Homo sapiens: one gene and its partners. The protein of the gene in region 1 purifies or fractionates together with the protein of each later gene. This does not show direct contact. Each region holds a gene or a part of one and is shown in the gene's direction. Other genes may lie near its edges.

The links. Proteins that work in one complex are often made in the same cells at the same time.
Region 2: the proteins of SLC5A7 (region 1) and MGAT5 purify together in Homo sapiens (affinity purification with mass spectrometry; one large-scale study listed by BioGRID and IntAct). This does not show direct contact.
Region 3: the proteins of SLC5A7 (region 1) and SLC6A18 purify together in Homo sapiens (affinity purification with mass spectrometry; one large-scale study listed by BioGRID and IntAct). This does not show direct contact.
Region 4: the proteins of SLC5A7 (region 1) and KIAA1549 purify together in Homo sapiens (affinity purification with mass spectrometry; one large-scale study listed by BioGRID and IntAct). This does not show direct contact.

Annotation. Positions count from the first base shown.
Region 1 is NC_000002.12:107,985,282-107,989,323, forward strand, and holds the start of SLC5A7 (high affinity choline transporter 1), read left to right. Parts: upstream 1-1,242; 5' UTR 1,243-1,482; intron 1,483-2,705; exon of another isoform or gene 2,706-2,823; 5' UTR 2,824-2,874; coding exon 2,875-3,052; intron 3,053-4,042. UniProt on the Homo sapiens protein: High-affinity Na(+)-coupled choline transmembrane symporter. Functions as an electrogenic, voltage-dependent transporter with variable charge/choline stoichiometry.
Region 2 is NC_000002.12:134,334,072-134,337,571, forward strand, and holds part of MGAT5 (alpha-1,6-mannosylglycoprotein 6-beta-N-acetylglucosaminyltransferase A), read left to right. Parts: intron 1-2,145; coding exon 2,146-2,217; intron 2,218-3,500. UniProt on the Homo sapiens protein: Catalyzes the addition of N-acetylglucosamine (GlcNAc) in beta 1-6 linkage to the alpha-linked mannose of biantennary N-linked oligosaccharides.
Region 3 is NC_000005.10:1,223,989-1,228,180, forward strand, and holds the start of SLC6A18 (inactive sodium-dependent neutral amino acid transporter B(0)AT3), read left to right. Parts: upstream 1-1,392; 5' UTR 1,393-1,489; coding exon 1,490-1,649; intron 1,650-4,192. UniProt on the Homo sapiens protein: Does not show neutral amino acid transporter activity.
Region 4 is NC_000007.14:138,974,890-138,978,389, reverse strand, and holds part of KIAA1549 (UPF0606 protein KIAA1549), read left to right. Parts: intron 1-3,500. UniProt on the Homo sapiens protein: May play a role in photoreceptor function.

The DNA of each region.
Region 1 (4,042 bases):
ATCTTTGCAGGCCTTTTGGCCCGTCTTAATTTCTGTTTGAACTCCCTAGGCTTTCTCACCTCAAAAGAGGTAGTTGGATGCAGTTATTGTTTATACAGAGAAGAAAGAAAAGGGGTAGTAACATAAATTTGGAAGTTAATTTCAAAATCCAGTGTAAGAAAAGGGGAGATGGTCTGATTGGCCTAGAGAGGTGAACAGTAGTTCAGAGGCACTCTTATTTATTCTATCCCTTATTAGACTTGTGTATTTCACTGTTAAATACACTCTCATGGTGGAATGCGGAAAGAAGTGAGAAAGTGGCCAGAGTGCTTGTAGCTTTGTGGCTTGTGACTCTTCTATCTTATTCTCTCCCACCCTTCTCTCTTCCTCCATTCACATTCACACAGGTATCTGCATCTATCCATGTACACCTAGATGTAGAAATACATCTATAGATACATATTTATATGTGTAATATATAAATAATCTATAAAAATAGGTAGGTATATGGATATATTGTAAACTAACACAGCAAATTTTTGTAAGCTGGAATAGGATATTCAGCAGGCCAGCTGCCCAAAGGGCTCTACCAGGAAAGCCATCTTGTCTGACTTCTGTGATAACCTCATTGTTAATCTGGACCACGCCTAGTGTCCTTCATGGTAGCCCTACTTTTAAGTGGCAGGGGTATGAATGTAAAAAGGACTTTCTAAACCTTCCTGAAATGTCTCCTTCAGGGAGCCCATCACCAGGGACGCCAGGAACAGCTTCCAACAGGGCCCAGGGGAGGCCGCGGGAGAGGACCCCTTCCCTCTCAGAGAGACTCGTCAGGAAACAATTCCAGACTCTGACCTGGGAAGAAAAGAACAGGACACTTCTCTCCTCTAGGCTTCCAGCTGCTGCTTCTGAAAATATAATCCTCTGAGACCCTCCCCATTCCCAGCTTCCAACCAGAGGGATGAGAAGTTCGACTGGGAATCACCCTAAGGAATCTCCGCCCAGTTTTCTGGAGGAGGAGATGGGAGTAGCAGGTACTTGTCTCAGGATGGGGATACCATGGCTGGCAGCGCGGACCAGAGCCCAGCCTGCCCCCCAGCTCCTTGGGCCCCGTTTCCTTCGCATCCCGCACACCCACCCTCCTCGCGAGGGCAGCGTCCCTAGCACACGCCCTAGCACCACTCTCCTCTGACGTCCGCCTCCGGATGTCTGACGATCGCCCCCGCCTGCCGCCCTTATAAAGGGGACTTTTCCCAATACTCGATCGATTCCCACCTCGCCCTGCGCCGCGCGCCCTCCGCCGGCGCCAACACCTGTCAACTCTGCGCGCTCCCAGGTTCTTGGAGACGCCGAGTGAGGAGCCGCCCTGACCGCCCGGCCCCGCTCCGCACTGCACCCCGACCCACCCCGCACCCTCCCTTTCTGCACCCTCGCACCCACACCCCTCGCGGTTCCAGGGGGCGGCGGCCCCGGGCGGAGCGCTTTCGCGTGCAGCCACCACTCCAGGTAGGAGCGGAGCGGGCATTCCTGCGCCTACGGGCCCGCACCCTCGGAAACGCCTTGGGCACCGAGCCCGGGCGGTTTTAGAGGGGAGGGACGCGGCGTTTTTCCCTCTCGGTGGGATGCGAGGGCGGGTTTGCTGTCTGGCACCGTTGCTGTCAGGGTGCAAGAGGCTACAAAGTCTGGGCGCAGGAAATGGGTAGAGGGGGCCGAGGAAAGGCCGCAGGGGGCCGGGAGAGCATCGGGCTGCTGCGGAGAGGAACTTGCCTGCTTGGTTGCTCACAAAGGCAGAGAAGACACAGCCCGCGGGCGCTTCTTTTGCCTCCTTTAAATTCCAGAGAGGCTGATTCTTTCCCCCAACGTCTCTTCACCCACCTGCACGCACAAATGTCAGAGTTTCCCCCAGAAACTTGTATGTGAGAGTTTGGGTTCATGGAACAGCTGTGGTCACAAAGGTAAAAAATAAATAAAAATAAAAATAAAAGGGGACAAGAATTTCAGAAGGTGAATGCTTTCGAACTTGACATCTGTCTTCTAAGAGTCTTGATTTTAATATCTTTGAGGCTTCTGATGTGCTTTTAGGCAATTGTGTTTAAAACAACAGCAACAACAACAACAAAACCTTTTCCTGTATGTACCATTAATGGGGGGTGATGAATTGAATGAAGGATATTGGGCGAAGAAGATCAAGAGAATGGATCCTTTCAACAACAAAAAACATACTTAGTTGCTATAGTAACTTGAACTACAGAAGCTTGTTGAAAATGTGGAGTTTGATGTGTTTTTGAAATGGATTTTTCTAAAGATTTTTTTCAGATATTTTTATATCAGATTACTACTGAAGCCATTCTCTGAAGTTGTTTGAAAGGACAGATAAAAGAATGAATAAATTAATGAATATTTTAAAATTTTCAGAATGGTCATTTATGAAACACTTAACACTTCTAGAATAAATAATTCTAGAAGAGTAACTTAGTTCCAAAACGCAGATACAGCGCTACTCTTTGTAAATGATTTGACAGTTACTGAGTTAAGATATACACGACAAGGTTAATTTTAAATTTAAAGCATGTATGAAACACACAAGGATTATGATTCCATTTGTTAAACTACATTTCCGTTTTTTTTTCTGTTTCTTGCAAACTCAAAATAATGTTAAATTGTTAAATAGAAGTAGGATAATGTAGTGGACACTTATTGTTAACTGCCCGTTTCACGTGTGGTTTCAGGGTTGTACTCTTTCTGTGAGTGGCACAGGATCTCGCATGAGCCAGCTGGTTTATTCCTGGCTGCCTACATGTGCATAGTGCTTGACTGGTTTATAATGCATCCCTGTATTTTCTTCAGAAGACTTAATGAAGTAGCCAGCTGCAGAAGAATCTGGATCATTAGATAAAAATGGCTTTCCATGTGGAAGGACTGATAGCTATCATCGTGTTCTACCTTCTAATTTTGCTGGTTGGAATATGGGCTGCCTGGAGAACCAAAAACAGTGGCAGCGCAGAAGAGCGCAGCGAAGCCATCATAGTTGGTGGCCGAGATATTGGTTTATTGGTTGGTGGATTTACCATGACAGGTACGTTCAGACGCCGCCGGCTCCATGCAGTCCTCCCTTCCTTGGCATCTGTGAGTGTGCAGCGTGTGGCTTCAGAGTGACAAAGCAAATGTTGGTCTTTGTCCTTTGGGGATTCTTTATGTTCACTAGTTATATATATTTTAAAATAATTTTCTATTGATTTAAAACCTAAAAATAAATTGGTTTCAACTCAGTAGTACTTGAACAAAAATGATTTTATAATAAATCACTGGACTGAACAGTCATGAAACAAATCTTGGCTCCCTGGGCTATTGAGTGGGTGGAAACAGAGTAAAAACAAAGAGGTGGGGGAATGGGAAGCTGTCCTAGTATTACAAGCTATGTATCTGCTAATTAATGTGATAGGCAGCATCTCAACGTGTCCGGTAATACATGCATAAAGTTGTGACTTTGAGATTTAAATAAGTGCCAATGAATACCATCTAGTGATGGTTTTTAATCTGCATAAATAAATTTGGGGGTGATGATATTCCCAATTGAGTGATTCCCTGTTTTGAAACCTAATTCTTTCATTTAATAACTAATTCCTCACAGGAAGACAATCACATGTTATGAGTCCACAGCACTAATAAAGAGATTTCATGAACCTTGTTATAAAAGGGAAAAGCTAGGGTGTGTCCTCATAGGAATCCCCAGGCCACCATCTGCAGTCATCTCTCATTCAAACCTTCTTTGTGTTAGCAGGAGCTGATATTCTTTCTTACTTTGCACTAAAGTGGTTCTGTTTAAAGGGTGATTTGTTTCTTTTTTATATTCTTCTTGGTCGTTGAAAATAATTCTGAAAAACATCAACTTAGAATTATATGTTTAATATTTAATACAGTTGCACTAACAACACATATTTCATTATACAGTCTTAGTAGAGTTTTTAAACATTTGCAACATAGCAAGAACTGTGAGCGTTCATTGGAAAAATATCCCATGGGAAATGATATCAAGTGATGCCCAATTTCAGTCCCGAAGGGCAAT
Region 2 (3,500 bases), about 26 Mb from region 1:
ATTTCTTGCTAAAAGCTAAATTGGATTGACTCTATATTTTATATTTTCAGGAGTGCCCTTGGAGCCTTAGGGAGTAATACCCAGTGATTTAGAATAAGAAGAACTAAGATAAATGATCAGTTTCAAAGAGGCATTACAGTCTTCAGGCTTCTGTAGGGAAGTCATCTTTTTAAAAATCACCTGGGACTGTATTTTCATCACAGTGAATCTTGAAAGATTCTTCTTGCAGTGGCAGAGTGAGGAGAGAACTTTATGAGTATCTGGTCTCGCTCATGTCTCTCCTCTTAGTTGATTTTCTTTAGTCTTGTTTCATCTTTCCCCATCATGCTATTCCTGGGAAAACTTCATCCTGGTGGGTGGCTGGTAAATTTGGTTATTTACTTGGTGTAAGGTGTATTTCAAATCTCTACTTTCCTTGCTCATCCTTTTTTTTTTTTTTTTTTTTTTTGCAGGGTTGGGGGTGGGATGGGGTGAGGTTAAAGATCTCACAATCAAGTCTACAATCCATTTGAAGTCTTCATGTTATAAATATGCTTTATTGAGTCCATTAGCACAAATCTAATTGGAGCTAAATAATTCAATCTGGCCTAAGAATACAAGGTACAGATGTGCATAATGCTACTGAGACCAGCTTAGGCTTCATCCACTTGCAGGCTTTTTCTCTGCTGTTTTTCCTCATTTTTCTCATTTGTGGAGCTGCAGATATTGCCTTTCATGGTCATGTTGTTGTCAGATCCCAGTAATTAGACTGTAGGCCTCCAAGGCAAGTTGGTCTTTTCTTTTTTATGAGTAAAAACCATTTTAGCTTTCCTTGTGGGGAATCCTTTTGAGTCTCTGAATCATTCACAAATATGGTAAGGTCTAATTTTATCCCGTAAGAAGATAAGAGAATATTTCACTTTTCCTATTCAGAGATTCCGCCCTCTCCCCAAGCTTTGCTTCTCTCTGCTTATTGCTTTGGGATCATCTGCAGTGGCAGATGGCTTTATGCAAATCAGGCCAATTACTTTGGTTATAGTAAAGATCACCTTGCATTATGAGTAACTTCCAGATTAAGTAAAACTGACATGTTTCTTTGAAAACTTACCCAGACTGAGAGGGCACACTGTCTTGTGCTGACCCATGAGGCTATAGCTCCACACGTCTCTGCTATCTTAGTGACCCCTTTAAGGACATTCCCTCACTCTATTGCTCATTAAATTTTATAGATCTACCTGGCCATAGAAAAATTATTTTCAATGCCTGTTAGCCATATTTCATAATCTCATTCTTTATTAGTAAACGGGTGATAATGCTGTCTTCAAATTTTATGGCTAGTTTTGACAGAGAACAGACACCAATATAACTTTAATGCATTTCTCATTTTTTTGCTAGAAATTAAGTTGCCTAATAGTCTTTGATAACCTTTGCTGAAATAATTTCTATAGAATCAAGTTCTTTTTTCCTTTCTCTTTCCTCCTCCCCTCAATTTCTAAACCTTATTCATTGACAGAACAATCCATCTTCCAGATTGGCTCTCACAAGATCATCAAGGTTTTTTTTTTTTCTCCTCCTTTCATTTCTTTCTCAGATAGGTTTTACCACCTTATTTCTTGAGATAGTGTGAAGCAAATAGCTAGAAAATGAGGGAAACCTTGACCAATTAGCCCTAAGCTATCAGTGGCATTCCTAACTCAGATAAAGGATTGAGTTCTGTGGCTCCAATGCCATTCCCTTTCCTTTCCAGATATGCCACAGCAGATAAGGATCTTTCCTGTCCATTTGCTAAAGGGTCACAGAGACACCTTACATTCTCATTCCCCAGTGGCAATGTTTCAGTCTTTTAACTTTCTGCCATTAGACTGCCTTTCCTTCTGGTACAGAGATGTGAGGCTTAAATGACTAAGGAATTAATTGCTGTAAAGTACTTCGAAGGACAGATGTAAAGTATAATCTCTTCCTTCTGACCTTTGCTGCTGATTGTTTCATCTGAGAGGGCACTTGTATCTGGAATACTAGCTAAAAGCATGGGAATTTGGCTAATAATAAAAATAGCACATATTAATATAGTGCTAGTTGTGTGCCAGGAGCTGTTCTCGGTGCTTTTTATGTATATTAATTCATTATAGATGAAGCTGCATATTTAGTGTCACTGATGCTTTTTAGGTTGAAAATTGGTGTCCTCATTTACCTTGGAGAGCAAAAAATCCCTACGAAGAAGCTGATCATAATTCATTGGTAAGTGATTTTGGAAAACTCTTTCTAGACTTGTGCATTTAGGTCAGATGCCAAGTGATACATGTGGAATCTTCTAGAAATGCCAACTATAACCTGAAATAGTGTTACACTGAAAAACTTCTGTATTCGTCTCTGTGGAAGTCTAAGTGACTAAATCAGTCAACCATTAGCATAGGTTTGTTTACTGAGCAATTCTCTGAGGGTTCCTGAATGATAGGCTACTGATATGAGTAAGACCTGGTACGAGCTGTGGAGGCCCTTAGTGATCTAATAAGGCTGATGGCAAATAATGACCATCTCTGTCACAAATGCTGTAATATAGGCCTGTGGGAATTAATGAGGAAGAGGTCATTTTAGTCTGCAAGGTTCAGGGTAGATTGAATAGTGAAGATGACATTGGGGCCGAATTTAAATGATGAGTGAGTTTATATAAGGTCAAGGAGAAAAGGGTATCTCTCGTGTGGGAAAATGAGAGCATAGCAGTTTCAGGGAGGAGAGCATGCACGCATGGTTCAGTTGGCCAAGGCCATAGGTGACTGGATGAGCTAGGCTGAAGGTGAAATTGGGAAGGTAGGAAGGGGACTGTGAAAGTACTTGTTGCCACATTAAAAGCTTAAGTCTTTACTCTTTAGACCATAGATCACTAAACTTCTACAAAATACCCAGATAGTAAATAGTTTCATCTTTGCAGGCCATATTGGTCTCATTGCAGCTCCTCAGTTCTGCCATTGTAGCGCAGAGAGCAGCTGTATATGATATGTAAATGAAGGGGCATGGCTGAGTTCCAGTAAAATTTTATGCACAAAAACAAGCTGTGAGGATTTAGCCCAAGGGCTGTAGTTTGCTGTTCCATGCTGTAAACCACAGGAGTCGTAGGATATTGTTTAGTCAAGAAGGGAAATGAAACTGGATGTGGCGGCTCATGCCTGTAATTTCAGCACTTTAGGAGGCTGAGGCAGGAGGATTGCTTGAGGCCAGCCATTTGAGACCAGCCTGGGCAATACAGCAGGACCCCATCACTACAAAAAATTTAAAAACTAGCTGAGCGTGGTGGCGAGTGCCTATAGTTTCAGCTACTTGGAAGGCTGAGGTGACAAGAGGATCGCTTGAGCGCAAGTTCAAGGCTCCAGTGAGCTGTGATTATGCCACTGCATTCCAGTCTGGGTGGGAGTGTGAGACCCTATCTCAAAGGGGGATAAAGAAGGAAAAGAGATGAGTGTTCAGAATGAGCTATGGTGATTACTGAAAAGGTGGACTCAGCATGTTTGAGATGTTCTATGAAA
Region 3 (4,192 bases), on another chromosome or scaffold:
GGCTGTGATGCCACCGAGGGGCTCGCCTGCTGATGGCTTCAACAGGGTCTCACCTCATCTTTTCCTGCTCTTTGGCCCTGGATCGAGAAAATTTCCATCAGTGCCCCATTAATATGCTGCCCTGTGGCATCTGCCCAGGAGGCCCTGCCAGGCGTGCACAGGTGTGCATTGGTGTACCCTGGCATGCACAGGTGTGCACTGATGTGCCCTGGCATCCATTGGTGTACCCTGGTGTGCCTGCCATAGGACCCTGGGCGGGAGCTCCCATCTCATCTACATCTCCTGATTCATGCGTTGTTTCATAGGTTTCAATGTCTCTGTAAATGTGGTAGAAATGCAGGCTTTATGGGCATAAAGTGTACATTTCTAAATAAATCCCTTCTATTGAGTATGCTCACCCTAGAAGTTACTGTTGTCCAGACGTAGAGGGATGAGTGAGCCAGTGACCTCAGACGGGATGGTGGGGACGGCAGGTCCAGCTCCTGCCTCCTCCTGGGGGGTCTGGCTTTGGGGGCTTGCTCCGAAGAGGCCATGGCCCAGGCCTGTGGCCTCACAATGGGGACCAACCAGCTCTTCTCATCTTCTTCCCTCACACTTCCTCTCACTCAAATAAGAACCTTCCAAAAATGTGTCCACCTGGGCCCCTGCCCTGGGACTCATGGATTTGGAGTTGTGGCCACACGGTTGAGGGGTGCAGTGTCCAGTGGAATGGGGCAATTGCGGGCCTGGGGGCCCTTGGCCTGTCCGTGGCGGGAGCATCTGCAAGGAGGAGCCCCAGAGTCCAGGGAGCACTGTGGGGAGCTCCTTAGAGCTGAACTCACCCGGCGTCAACTCATCAACCCTCCACCCATGGACAGGGGTGCCCCCAGCACAGGAGAGGACTCAGCCCTCTGCCCCCACGCACGGTGGGTGCCTGTCACCCTGTCCTGCCCAGCGGCCCGAGGGCAGCAGTGGGTGTGAGGGCAGCCCCCGGCCTCCCAAGAGCAGCTGAGAGGATCCCTGCGGGAATCCGGGCTTCGGGTGCATGCGATCTGATCTGAGTTGTTTCTGACAGTGACAGAGTGACAATCTATAAGTATCTCAAGATCAAATGGTTAAATAAAACATAAGAAATTTAAAACGATTAAAATATGCCTCAGTCTTGGGAATCCTGGTGTCTGCAACAAAAAAACTTGAGGCTGTCCTTGCAAACGGTCCTCATGGTGCTGGGGGTGGTGCCAGGCCCGGCGTTTGCCTGGAACACAGAGCATGCGAGAAGGAGCAGAGGACGTGGGTGCCAGGGAAGGACCCTGGCGTCAGAGCCAGGGCCTGGACCTGAGTTACCCATTAACGGCACTCCACTGGTTTTCCTTTAAAGAAATGAATAAATACAACTGCAGTGGGGCTGCTTGTGGTTTCCAAACGTCGGCAGAGGCTGGAGACGGCTCTCTAGTGCTGGGTGTGGAGTGAGGCACCACCCTTGCCCTGAAGCCTGGGGCACTCAGTCACCATGGCTCATGCCCCAGAACCGGACCCGGCCGCCTGCGACCTCGGGGATGAGAGGCCCAAGTGGGACAACAAGGCCCAGTACCTCCTGAGCTGCACTGGGTTTGCCGTGGGACTGGGGAACATTTGGCGGTTCCCATACCTGTGCCAGACCTATGGAGGAGGTAAGCACCCACCTGCGTCCTGGGGCAGACCCCTAAGCAGGGGAGGCCGTCTCCACCCTGACCTGCCAGGCGCCTGCCACGCATCCCCAGTGCTTGGGCAGAGTCACTCCTCCTGGAAACCAGGGTGCACCATTGCCCACGGCAGAGTCAGTCCCCTCAGGGCCCACCTGCAGTCTTCTGGGACCTCAGGGCAGCTTCACCACTGCCCACAGCACGGAGGATCCAGTCCCCTCGGGGTCCACTATGGTCTTCCGGGACCTCAGGGCAGCTTCCTGCCAGGCGTCAGGTTGAATGGGCCGCCCTGCCCGACACACACACCCTACAAACAGTGAGCGCTCTTCCATCTGAATGTCGTCAGTTCTTTAAAGAACACACAATCCGCTCTGGGTTTCCTCACCACAGCCTTGGTGTGTCCAGACATGTGCTCAGGTGCCCTTCTCCGAGGTTCTTTGCAGGAATTTGGGGGCCCACCCCTCGCCTCCCTGGCTTTGGTTCTCTGGGAGAGCCCTGTGGGGGGTGCCAGGATGTTCAGAACTGTCTGGGTGACTTTAGTGACCTTGGACTCACCACCCCCAGAAGTGCATTGGTGACTGAAATAGGCTCCCACGCACCTCGAGCCTCCCCTCACCCTGTGCCTGCTTCTCTTCATGCAGGGGTCACACTCTGCTCTCCATGTGGCGACACAGGATGTAGGGACAGGCATGAATCACTGCTCTCAGGGAGCCGACGTACAACATCACGCATGGACACCCAGGTCTTCCCCAGGCAACACGGGCAGGGGCTTCCCAGGCCGCAGGGTCCTCCTCAGGCCAGGCCGGGCTGCTTGGTCAGCCTGTTCCCCGGGCCCTCAGCTCCTTCCCTGAGAGCCCCGCACAACTATCCCTTGTTATAAGGTTACTCCTTTAAAGTGTTTTTCCTCCTGCTTAAGAAAAGATTCTCAACAGGCAGAAAATGCAGGAAATGCGCACAAATGGAAAAAACAAAAAGAAACACCCGTCACTGCCACCCTCGGGGCACTGGGGTCTCTTTGGGGCTTTGGGGCTGGAGAGGGTGCATTGGGCCTTGGATCTTCTCATCATGAGAGTCCCTTTGAAGGCATTTCTGAAAGCACCAAAGCCCAAGGGCAGAGGCGTCCCTGGCTCCCGGGGCCCTCGCTGCCTGTGCTGCGGCTCGATCTGCTAAGAGTCACCAGAGCATGCAAGGTTGTGGGGGCAGCAGGCTTCACGCAGAGCTGGAAATGCCGGCCAACGCTTTACCCACCAACGCCTTGTTCGCCAATGCCTTGCCCACCGATGCCTTTCCTGCTGATGCCTTGCCCAACGCCTTGCCCACCGACGCCTTGCCCACCGATGCCTTGCCCACCGATGCCTTGCCCGCCGACGCGCCCAACGCCTTGCCCGCCGACGCCTTGCCCGCCGACACCTTGCCCGCCGACCCCTTGCCCGCCGACGCCTTGCCCGCCGACGCCTTGCCCGCCGACGCCTTGCCCGTCGATGCCTTGCCCGCCGATGACTTGCCCGCCGATGCCTTGCCCGCCGATGCCTTGCCCACCGAAACCCAGTTACCATTGCTAAGCGCCTGCAGTGTACTGGAAGTGTCTGGCACTAGCCTCCCTTAAACTCAGCTGCTCCACGCTGGGGCAAAGCTGGGGAGGCCCCCACCTGGGGTGCTGCTGAGGAGGGAGAACAGCCCTGCCCGCCAGCTGCGCGGGGACTTCAGGGCTGCTCCACTCATGAACGACTCTACCATCAATCTCCTGATGCAAGCCACCGGGTTGCATGTCATGAAACATCCAAGTTTATTTAACTCACACACTTCCTAAGGGCCGTGCCATCAGCATTCTCACCCTGTGTGTGAACATGCCCTTCACTTTGTCTCGCTGTGAGGATCACTCATTGATGATTTTGAAAACAAGATATAATTAAGAAGCAGGTACTGTGTAGCTTTTAACATTTGCATATACTCATGACTACCAAAGGCGAATATTATTTGCTCTCCCATTCATAAGTATTCAACTACATAAATGTTCTCTTCAAAGCTAAGACTTGTAAAGCAACATTGTAACAGAATGTAGCAAAACGTTGCGGTAAAGATTTACAGTGATTTTCTCACACCTATGACATTTCATGGCAGCTGCTTTATTACACATTCAGCGTCTTTAAATCAAAGGAACGTAGACTCGTAAATGCCAAGCGATGGGTTCAGGCCAGCTGCCCGGGACACTCTAACACTTGCTGTGGTTTAAGGTTTCAACCCAGGAAGCTTTTATGACTAAGCTGGTGGCCCTGGGCTGGCTGTGTCCACACACGTGAGGTCACTCATCAAGCGCGCCCCCTCCCCGCTACTTCCTGCCTCCGGTGTTCAACCGACTTCTGTATCTGGTAGGTGCTGTTGAGATCTGTGGATTCTTGCACCAAAAACGACACTGTATTAATTACTATGGCTTCTTCGTTAGTCTCGACGCCTAGTAGTAGAGCAAGGCCTTTTTTTTTTATTCTTTGAACTTTTGCCAGCTGCTACTTTTCCTCTGAGCTTTACACCAG
Region 4 (3,500 bases), on another chromosome or scaffold:
CCATCCACAGTATAAAAACAAAGAATCATGCCCAGTTTCTTCACCTTATTCAGAGATAAGTTTTTAAAAAGTAATAGTTATTATGAAATAGATTGCTTTGTAGGGAATTTGGAAATTACTGAAAGGTACAGAAACCAGTCACCCATAATCTCACAGCCTGTAGGTAACACTAAGTAATTTTATCGTTTTTTTGTTGTTAACATTAAAAAAAGAATTATATGCACAATTGTATTTACTACCATTTCCACTCTACATTTAACTTAAGCATTTTTCCATTCATTAAGTCTTATTTGAAAACTATTTTCTATCCTAATGATTTATTCTTTTATTTCCATTTTTTGGGTTGCTGTAAGTAATGCTGATGAATAGCTACATAGAGAAGGCTCTGCTGGCCATGCGCGCTGGCTCACGCCTGTAATCCCAGCACTTTGGGAAGCCGAGGTGGGCGGATCACCTGAGGTCAGGAGTTTGAGACCATCCTGGCCAACATGGTGAAACCCCGTCTCTACTAAAAATACAGAGATTAGCTGGGTGTGGTGGCATGTGCCTGTAATCCCAGCTACTTGGGAGGCTGAGGCAGGAGAATTGCTCGAACCAGGGAGGCAGAGGTTGCAGTGAGCCGAGATGGCGCCATTGTACTCCAGCCTGGACGACAGAGCAAGACTCCGTCTCAAAAAAAAAAGGCTTTGTGCATGTTTCTTTCCGTGTGTGTGTGTGTGTGTGTGTGTGTGTGTTTTCTTGAGTATACATTTGTGGAAGGGGTATTAGAGTGTGATTAAAATGTAAGGCCCACCAGGCTGGATTTCTGCATCTTTTGTTCAAAATGCTGGGCCCCTAGTAGGTACTCAGTATGTGATTTTTGAATGAAGCAATTTTTGAAAGTTATAATGCTGACATAAGCCCTTGAAGCTTACGCAGGGGCCTTCCATTATCACTTGCATTGAGTATTCACTTCATCACTGGCATTGAATGTTACTTTAAAAGCCCTTGTTAAATAAATTTGTAATACATTGTTTTAACCTGCACGGTTTTATTGCTTTAGAATTGAATATTTTTTATTTTGTATTTGTATTCTGTGAATTTTCTCTGTATTTTTATTTATTTACCTGTTGTGGCATAGATATGTATTTAAATCTTTATGTATTAGAAGGATAGCAACCATTTTTCCTTCTATATGTTGCGTTTTCCCCTTCCAAAGGAATTTCTTTTAAATTTTACATAATTTTGAAATGTAGAAGTTTTTGGTTGTTTTGATTAGCAAGATCTGCCATTTGTTCTTTTAATAATTTTTTTATTGCATTTATGCTTATGGTGTGTGAAATTTTTTTCTTAATGTGCTGTTTTATTATTGGCCATTTCTAGGTGAATATTTATGCTTTGTGAGTCGTTTAGGATATTATAAACAAATACTTAAATGTTTCAAAAGTGTGGCCCCTAGGCCTCCTGCATCAACATCATTTGGGGATGTGGGGGTGCTTGTTAAGAATTTAGATGTCTACGACTCACCCTTAGCCTCTAAATTAGACTCTTTGGTGGCAGTGCCTGGGAATCTTCATTTTAACAAGTTGACAGCTCCGTTTTAGCCCCTGAGCATTGGAACCACTGATCCGGATATGGTAAACCCAGTAACTGAAAATTAACAGTATTTTGAAGATATAGTAGTCCCTCCTTATCTGCAAGGGATGTGGTCCAAGACCCCCAGTGGATGCCTGAAACTTTGGGTAGTACTGAAGTCTGTATATACCATGGTTTTTTCCTATATGTACATACCTGCAATAAAGTTTAATTAAAAAATGAGGCACAGTAAGAGATTAACAATAATAACAAAACAGAACAGTTCTAACAGTCTACTGTAATAAAACGTGAATATGCTGTATCTCAAAATACCTCAGAATATCTCAAAATATCTTCAAACTGCAGTTGTCCTCCGGTATCCGAAACCTTGGAGGAGGGGGACTACTGTATACCATTGGTATCTTGCAGTTGTCTTTTCACTGTTAGAACAGCTAATTTAAAATCGTTATGTTGAGGCCGGGCGCGGTGACTCACGCCTGTAATCCCAACACTTTGGGATCACCTGAGGTCAGGAGTTGGAGACCAGCCTGGCCAACATGGTGAAACCCGGTCTCTACTAAAAATACAGAAATTAGCCGGGTGTGGTGGCAGGTGCCTGTAATCCCAGCTACTTGGGAGGGTGAGGCAGGAGAATTGCTTGAACCCGGGAGGCAGAGGTTGCAATGAAATGAGATCGCGCCACTGCACTCCAGCCTGGGTGACAGAGCAAGACTCCATCTCAAAATAAAATAAGATAAAATAAGATAAGGTAAAATAAAATAAGCATTTTTTGTTACATGTTTTTGCTTGGTTTTGTTTGGGTTGGGAGTGAAAGGGTGCAGAGGACTGCATTTTCAATGCTCACTCCTGCCCGTTTGGGAACAGCTGCTGCAGTGCTTGTCAGGAAGTGCCTCACTTAATTCTGAAAACAGAACCCAGCCAGGGAGTTGTTACAAGTCACTAGGGACGTGGGAGCCACAGGTTTTCTATCAGTGCCCTGAATGATAGAGGCAGCTAATTACCGTCATTATAATTACACTAGGTTGATTTTCCCAGATAGGAAGACACTGTTCTAACTGATCTAATTTGTTTTCAAGTTGTGACCACCCACCTTTCATCTGGAGCTCACAATGATGTGATTTCTTTTTCTTGTTGTTAGGCAGCAGGATTTGTTAAAAGGTGAGTTAAAAAACCTGGGTGTGTGCAAATGCAAATCTGCCTGTAACTTTGTGACTATGGACAAGTTACCTTGTCCTGGGTTTCCTCCTCGGTGTAAGAAAGGGTTAATGAGATTAGCGCTAATCTCATTAACCCTCTAGCTCCTTGTAGCTCATTTCTCCCTGTAGCTCCTACATATCAAGTCAACATCTTGGATGTCTTGGAATGCACTTATAAGCAGCATCTGTCCTTTTTCTGTTAGGTTGTTTTGTCATTTCTCCTTGCCTGGTAGATGTTCTAGGCCCATGACCTGCTGAAGGCAGCTCACTCTCACCATTGCAGATGGCTCTTCTTTTTAAAAACTCCCTTTATTCTTCCCTCTTGCATCCACACACTCAAGACCCATACTTTGCTTTCTCTTATTCTTTCTCTTTGTCTCTTTCTTTTTTCCATCTCCTTTGTTAGCTTCAGGCAATTACTTCTCATTAGTGAAATTCTAATCTTGTGGTCCCCACACTCTGAGCATCATCACTGCCTCTTAGCTCGCATCATCACTGCCTCCACTGCCTCGTAGCTTGTTAGAAAATGCAGAATCTCAGGGCCCACCCCCGACCTTCTGAATCAGAATCTGCATTTGACAAGATCCCCCTGGTGATTTTGCATGCACAATTGAGGTTTGGGAAGCACTGGGCTAAGAGGTAAAGTGCCTTCTGTTCTAGCCTTCTGGGAATAGGTATTGTTGGAACATTGAAGGCTAAGTCAGCCTGGACTAACTCTGGAGCTATGTA